Homo sapiens: one gene and its partner. The protein of the gene in region 1 purifies or fractionates together with the protein of each later gene. This does not show direct contact. Each region holds a gene or a part of one and is shown on either strand. Other genes may lie near its edges. The genes, in order: PADI3 and RRAS2.

Region 1 (3,818 bases):
ACATATGGTCTCAATTCTGCCACTATAGTGTGAAAGCAGCCACAGTTAATACAGAAATGGATGGATGTGACTGTGTGCTAATAAAACTTTATTTATACAAACAGGCAGTAGGCCAGATTTGGCCCACAGTTCATAATGTGCTGATCCTGACCTAGGCGAGAAGAGAAACCAAATATGAAACTGTTGAAGAACTTGGGACTGAATTATGTTGGAACTTGGTGCCCTGGGAGTTAAGAGGAGAAGGTCGAGGTGGGCTGGGTGGGTGAGGAAGGCTTCCTGGAGGGACGTACCCTTGAGCTGAGCTCTGAAGGGGTGCAGGAGGGAGGACGTTCCAGGTGCAGGGAATGGCAGGAGCAAAACCAAGGAGGGTTTAATGGAGGAATGAGCACAGAGTGAGGCGTGTGGTCCTATAATCAGGTTGCCTATTGAGAAAGAGGATGTTGGCTGAAGGCCCATCACAGATAGCCATGAAAGACAGCTCTGTGCTTTGGACTGGATGGTGTGGGCAACAGAGAGCCATTGCCATTGACATGTCTTGAGAAGGAGGTGCTTCGAGAACGTGGACCTAGCCTCACAGGGTTGGGTGGTTACAGGCCAGGCTCGGGTTCCTGGGTAGGGAGGCACAGGTCTCATCTGAGCCCTCATCACTGGCTATGTTTTGTCATTGGCAGCGGCAGTGGGTCTGGGGGCCCAGTGGGTATGGCGGCATCTTGCTGGTGAACTGTGACCGTGATGATCCGAGCTGTGATGTCCAGGACAATTGTGACCAGCACGTGCACTGCCTGCAAGGTGAGGCCGGGGCAGCCTGAGTCCCTGGGTGTCCAGGGTCACTGCTCAGTTACCCCATGGGAGTTCCAACCCACAGGCGAGACTCTGAGGCCAGAGTCCAGGGGAGAGCGCCAGCCTCCAGACACACCTCGATGCTCCTCAAAACCCATCTCAGGCTGGCAGCTGCCCCTCCCTAGTGTCTCTAGGGCCAGTGAGCACTCACATGCCAGGGCAGAAGCTCTGGAAATGAGCCACCTCGCCATTCTCTTCCTCCAGGGGAGCAGAGGATGCTAGCATTATTTGAGCACCTACTGTGTGCCAGGCCTTTTCCCCAAATTCTCATTGAATCATCCAAGTGGGACAATATCATCACCCCAATTTAGAGATGAGGATGCTGAGACTCAGAAGCCAGGAGACTCCCTGAAGACTGTGTCTGATCTGGGGCCTCCCCTCTCAACCCCAAATCTGGGCCTCCTCCTTCAGCACCTCTGGCCTACATTTCTGTGACTCCCCCACCTCTTGCTAAGTCCATCTGTCCTGAATTCCAGCCCCATGGAGAATGAGCTGCAATATTCCAGGGTATGCTAGGTGCTGTCCACGGGAGATGCCCACGGTTGCCTTCTGAAGTGGGCACCATTGGACATGGGGATGCTGGGGCTCCAGAAGGGAGGGGCTTGTCCAGGGTCACAGGGAGTGATGCTGGGATGGAGGCCAGAACCCTTACCTGCACGACGCCCACATGGCCTTACCCTCCTTGCTTCTCTGGAGCACCTGTTGTGTGTCAGACACCAGCTGGCTATGCCACACTTCATGTTTCTCTGGGCAATTGAGGAAACATGAGTCCAGGAGAGCATAGATGTCTTCATGGTTTGTTCTTGATGGCTTCCAGGGTTTTCACAAAGCTAGGGCTGGGAGACCCAGGTCTTGATACCCACTGACCTGGGGAGGGAGCTGGGCAGCAGAGGAAGGGGCCAGGGGCCAGGACTCCCTTGAGTCACTACCACTCTGTCTGGCTTCACAGACCTGGAAGACATGTCTGTCATGGTCCTGCGGACGCAGGGCCCTGCAGCCCTCTTTGATGACCACAAACTTGTCCTCCATACCTCCAGCTATGATGCCAAACGGGCACAGGTCTTCCACATCTGCGGTGAGTTTGTGCCACTGCCCCTTGCCATCTGTGCCCTGTTGCCAGGTTGCCTACCAGGGAACCTCCTGTTCCTGCCTTGGGCCATGGGCAGGTCCTGCTTACACTCCGGGAGATGCCCTGGTGGGTGGCGGGTCGCAGTAAGAACAGTCAGAAGTGGGGGCTTTGGAACTGATGAACTGGTGCCCCCAGCACAACACCTGGCCTGAGGTCATTTTATTTGATGAATGACCTTTTCAAATACATTTTAAGCATGTGTAGAAATTCTTATCAAAAATTTCAAACATACACAAAAAGCAGTGCTGTGAATCCCCATGTGCCTGTCACTCAGATTAAACAATTATCACTGTTTTGTCTGTCTCGCTGAAGTTTTGTAAAACCAACCCCAAACACCATAGATTTCACCCAATTAATTCAGTTTGTATTCCCCCCAAATATAGATGGCTGTTGTTTTACATAGTCTGCCAAAATCACAAGAAATACAAGTAAAAATCTAAATGCCTTTGAGAAACTAAAAATGTATACAAGTAATAAGATGCTTTTTTTTTTTTTTTTTTTTTTTTTTTGAGACAGAGTCTCGCTCTGTTGCTCAGGCTGGAGTACAGTGGCGTGACCTCGGGTCACTGCAACCTCCACCTCCTGGGTTCTGGCGATTCTCCTGCCTCAGCCTCCCAAGTAGCTGTGACTGCAGGCATGTGCCACCACACCCAGCTAATTTTTTGTATTTTTAGTAGAGACAGGGTTTCATTGTCTTAGCCAGGATGGTCTCAATCTCCTGACCTTGTGATCTGCCCGCCTCGGCCTCCCAAAGTGCTGGGATTATAGGCGTGAGCCACCGTGCCTGGCCGCTTATTTTTTAAATAATCAGACAATATGGAAGTATAGAAAATGAAACCTGAGAGTTCTCTACCCGTCTCTAAATCTGACTTTTTTTTTTTTTTTTTGAGTCAAGGTCTTGCTCTGTTGCCCGGGCTGGAGTGCAGTGGCATGATCTCAGCTCACTGCAGCCTCCACCTTTCAGGCTCAAGCAATCCTTCCACCTTAGCCTCACGAGTAGCTGGGACTACAGGCATGTACCACCACACCCTGCTAATTTTTTTTTTTTTGTAAAGACAGGGTTTCACCATGCTGCCCAGGCTGGTCGTGAACTCCTGGGCTCAAGCAATCCACCCGCTTTGGCCTCTCAAAGTACTAGGATTATAGGCGTGAGACGCCGCACCTGGCCTGAATCTGATTGTCACTGTTAACGAGTTGGGATGTGTGCTTCCCAACTTTATTCTACATGTTCTCCAGCGTGTGTCCATATGCTGCTTTCCAACCGGCTTCTTTCATTAAGTAATAATCCCACACACCTTTTCTGGTATTTATTGAGCTCTACTTCATTCTTTTCCACTGCTGTATAATATTCCTAAGCATAGAGGTGCTGTGACTTACACAGTTCTCTGAACATCATAGTGGTTTGCAGTGTTTTGATTTTATAACAATGCAGGTTGCTTGAGGTCAGGGGCTTTGTTCAAGTCCAGAACCGTGCCCCATGGGTGCACTGTAGTTGCACAGTAAATATTTGATGAATTAATGAATATCGAGCACTCTTGTACAGAAATATTATGTGACTTTGTACCTATTATTGTTTGTTTGTTGTTGTTGTTTTGTTTTTTGTTGGTTTTGGTTTTTTTTGAGATGGATTCTCGCTCCATGCCCAGGCTGGAGTGCAGTGGTGTGATCTTGGCTCACTGCAACCTCCGCCTCCTGGGTTCAAGCAATCCTCCTGCCTAAGCCTCCTGAGTAGCTGGGATTATAGGTGTGCACCACCACCGCCCGGCTAATTTTTGTATTTTTAGTAGAGACAGGGTTTCACTATGTTAGCCAGGCTGGTCTTGAACTCCTAACTTCAGGTGATCCACCG
Region 2 (3,818 bases), on another chromosome or scaffold:
TGCTCAGTAATGGTAGGTGTTATCAGTGTTTATGCCTACAGTTCTGTAACATGTTTAAATGCAAAGGGAATTCAGACTCAGAGAAGTCTGTGGAAAAAATTGATGAAAGCATTATGTAGGCTTGGTGGTGGGGAGAATGGAAATGTCATATGTGGGAGTCATATGCTAGTTTGGAGAGAGGAGGTGGCAAGTGGGGAAGTGGGATTGATAGTTGATTTGGGACCTGTGATCTGGTCTCTGCAAAAAGGAGCCTTTTTGGAGAGACAGGAACCCGACCACCTGGATGCAGTCTCAGCTCTACCACTTGCTGCATGTGTAATTTTAGGCAGGTTACTTAACTTCTCTGTACCTTAGTTTTCCCCATCTGTAAACTGGGGAAATATGGTGGACCACATATAGCTGTGAAATTAAATGAGTTAACATGTCAAGGGCTTAGAACAGTGTCTAGTACAGTCTGTAGTAAAGCTGCATACATTTTTATATTAATTTTAGATTATGGAGCTAAAGCGATTTTTTTATATTTACACTTAATAGGGTAGCTATTCATTGCCTGACTCCTGGAATGTTAAAATTCATTCCACCATGATTGTTTAGCAGTAGTAACTGGAGGGAGAGAACACAGCAGACTAATCATTTTAATAAGCAGAAGTCAGTTCTCTTGGTAGGAGATTAGAATGGCACAAATTGGACTTACTTTTTTAAGACTCCTGAAACACCAGACTGTTTTTACAATTTTCAGTATATATATTTTCTACTATGTGATTTTGAGCAGAAAAAAATATAAAATTGGGAACGGAGAATTTAAAAACAATGCCTTTTACCCTAACTTTCTTTGACTTAGATTTAGTTGTTACCTTCTGTTCATATGAAGAGTTGCAAAATTAGGGAACTAAGATAATTAAATTGAGATACCTTTTCCTTTTTAAAAATAAATATAACAAATCATAAAGTAGCCATGATAAAATGTAAAGTATTATGTTATTTAATGAATATGTGTGTGTACATTACCTCCTCCTTTCTGTTGCTCATATTTCTTTGAAAAATGTGTAAAGTTCTGTTGGTAGGTAGAACACCTAAATGTTAAGTAAACTCTAGGTAGGAAATGACTTCAGGATGGTACAGAGTGGTTAGGAGAGACTGCTGGGTGTGTGGGGTCTATGTCTCTCTACCCAGGTGACTTTGAGTAGTTTCTTAATCTGCCTTTATCTCGACTGAGCTTCTCTTTCTTCCCCATGAAATGTTGGGTTTGGTTGAACAAATTTCTGCACTTTTGAAATTCTAGGAGTGTTTTTTTTTTTTTATTCATTTAACTAGCTGTGTGTTTAGTCAAGTTTCTTAGGTTCTCTAAACCCAAGTTTCACCATTTGAGAAGGGAGAATAACATTAAATAATAGTACCCTTAGGGTTTTTGGAGTAAATAAAATAATGCAGGTAAATCATCCAGCACCGTGCCATCTACAGAGTAAGCAAATAAGAATTGTTGGCTGGGCGTGGTGGCTCACACCTGTAATCCCAGCATTTTGGGAGGCCAAGGTGGGTGGATCACTTGAGGTCAGGAGTTTGAGACCAGTCTGGCCAACATGGTGAAACCCCACCTCTACTAAAAATACAAAAATTAGCCGGGCGTGTTGGTGCGTGCTTGTAATCCCAGTTACTCGGGAGGCTGAGTCAAGAGAATCACTTGAACCTGGGAGGTGGAGGTCGCAGTGAGTCAAGGTTGCGCCACTGCACTCCAGCCTGGGCAGCAGAGTGAGACTCTTGTCTCAAAAAAAAAAAAAAAAAAAAAGAAATTGTTACTTGGTTTTATTTGCTGCTGTTAGTTCTGTATCTTGGTGTTCCTCCAAAACAAAATTTGTAATTTTTTCATTTTTCTTTGACACATAATCTGGTCTATTACTTTAAGTCTTCATTGCCCTCTCCTTCCTGGCTCAACCCTATACTCCCCTCCTTACTTCTGTGTGGTATTCAGGTGATGAATGTGGATTCCGTTTTGAGTTGGAGAAATTTCTTTTTGTCAGTTTGGATTTAATTTTAAGAAATAATGAGGTAAGCATTTAATTTTGGGGTTAGTGCTTTATCTGGTAACTCTGAGAAAAGGCCATATATGTTTTAAAAATTTACAGGGAGGTTTATATATTTTTTTTAGCATATTAACTTTTTATTCAACAATTTGCCAGATTTTGAGGTAGGTAGGGGTTAGCTGATTTCTCACGTCTTGAATTTCAGTCAGTCCTATGACCTGTTAGTCTGGACCCAGCATTGCTTTTTAAAAGTTTGTCTTTTGCTGAGTACTTTTTCATTGCTTTTTCCTGGGGCAGAGAGCCGAGAAGAGATTTCAGGAGATTTGTGTTAATAGTTAATTGATCCACATGTGAAGGTTGTGAGTTTAAATTCCCAATTTGCTGTTCCATTGCTACATCTCGAAGATTTTTCCTGCAATTAGAAACTACTTAAACTGTTAACTTTTATCTATTATTTTGAAACTAGACATTTTTAGTGTTTAAACTTTTTTAACATTAATGTACAAATGAATTGTTAGCATTGAGAAATAAGACACCTGCCCCCAAAGTGGTACCATACTAAAGGTTTTCTTGTTTGGGGAACAGTTGAAATGGTCCTGCAGGCAATTCCTAGATAAAATTTCTGTACACCCAAGGAAGAACATTTTCTTATAGAGGATGACTGCCTTTGGAGAAGAAGGAAATTTTAACCTGCAGTTTCTTAACTTACGTCTTATTCTTGTTTTGTTCATTCTCTTTCTCTTTGTGTCTGTCTCTGTGTGTGTGTGTTTGTGTGCATGCGTACCCCTGTTTTGGGATAAGGAAGTTGTAGGAATTGAGTGGGGACACTTTTTTTTTTTTTTTGAGACGAAGTTTCGCTCTTGTTCAGGCTAGAGTGCAGTGGTGCAATGGCGTGATCTTGGCTATCTGCAGCCTCCACATCCTAGGTTCAAGCGATTCTCCAGCCTCAGCCTCCCAAGTAGCTGGGATTATAGACAGGCATGTGCCACAACACTCAGCTAATTTTGTATTTTTAGTAGAGGTGGAGTTTCACCATGTTGGCCAGGGTGGTCATGAACTCCTGACCTCAGGTGATCCACCCGCCTGGGCCTGCACCATGCCTGGCCGAGTGGGAGCACTTTTGTTGAGTAGGTCAAGAATACTGCTTTCCCTTGGTAGATAACAGGCTACTGCTTACCGGGATGGGATTTTAATTCATCTGATTGCTGAAATATCATGGTCTTTCCTAAGCTTTGAATAAAAATAGTCTGCTCCATTCAGTTAGGAAAATAAATTGATAACTTTAAATTGGGGGAGTAGAGTGGGAAGAGACTTTCTTAAAGCTATTAAAAAAAATTTTAGCTGGGCACGGTGGCTCATGCCTGTAATCCCAGCACTTTGAGAGGCTGAGGCGGGCGGATCACTTGAAGTCAGGAGTTTGAGACCAGCGTGGCCAACATGGTGAAACCCTGTCTCTACTAAAAATACAAAAATTAGCTGGGTGTGGTGGCGGGCGCCTGCAATCCCAGCTACTACTCAGGAGCTGAGGCAGGAGAACTGCTTGAACCTGGGAGTCGGAGGGTTGTAGTGGGCGGAGATCATGCCACTGCACTCCAGCCTGGGCAACACAGCAAGACTATATCTCAAAAAAAAAAAATGTCTCTCTCTCTCTCTCTCCCTCTCTCTCTCTCTCTCTCTCTCTATATATATATATTTTAAAAGTTTCTTTTTCAAATTAAAGTTGGTCTTTAAAATTGAAACAGATTTTGTGATGCCACTTGACACGCCTTTTTTTCTGGTTGGGGAAAATGGTCTTTA

Evidence for each region.
Region 2: the proteins of PADI3 (region 1) and RRAS2 purify together in Homo sapiens (affinity purification with mass spectrometry; one large-scale study listed by BioGRID and IntAct). This does not show direct contact.

Annotation. Positions count from the first base shown.
Region 1 is NC_000001.11:17,266,048-17,269,865, forward strand, and holds part of PADI3 (protein-arginine deiminase type-3), read left to right. Parts: intron 1-19; exon of another isoform or gene 20-249; intron 250-671; coding exon 672-789; intron 790-1,789; coding exon 1,790-1,915; intron 1,916-3,818. UniProt on the Homo sapiens protein: Catalyzes the deimination of arginine residues of proteins.
Region 2 is NC_000011.10:14,352,641-14,356,458, reverse strand, and holds part of RRAS2 (ras-related protein R-Ras2), read left to right. Parts: intron 1-3,818. UniProt on the Homo sapiens protein: GTP-binding protein with GTPase activity, involved in the regulation of MAPK signaling pathway and thereby controlling multiple cellular processes. Regulates craniofacial development.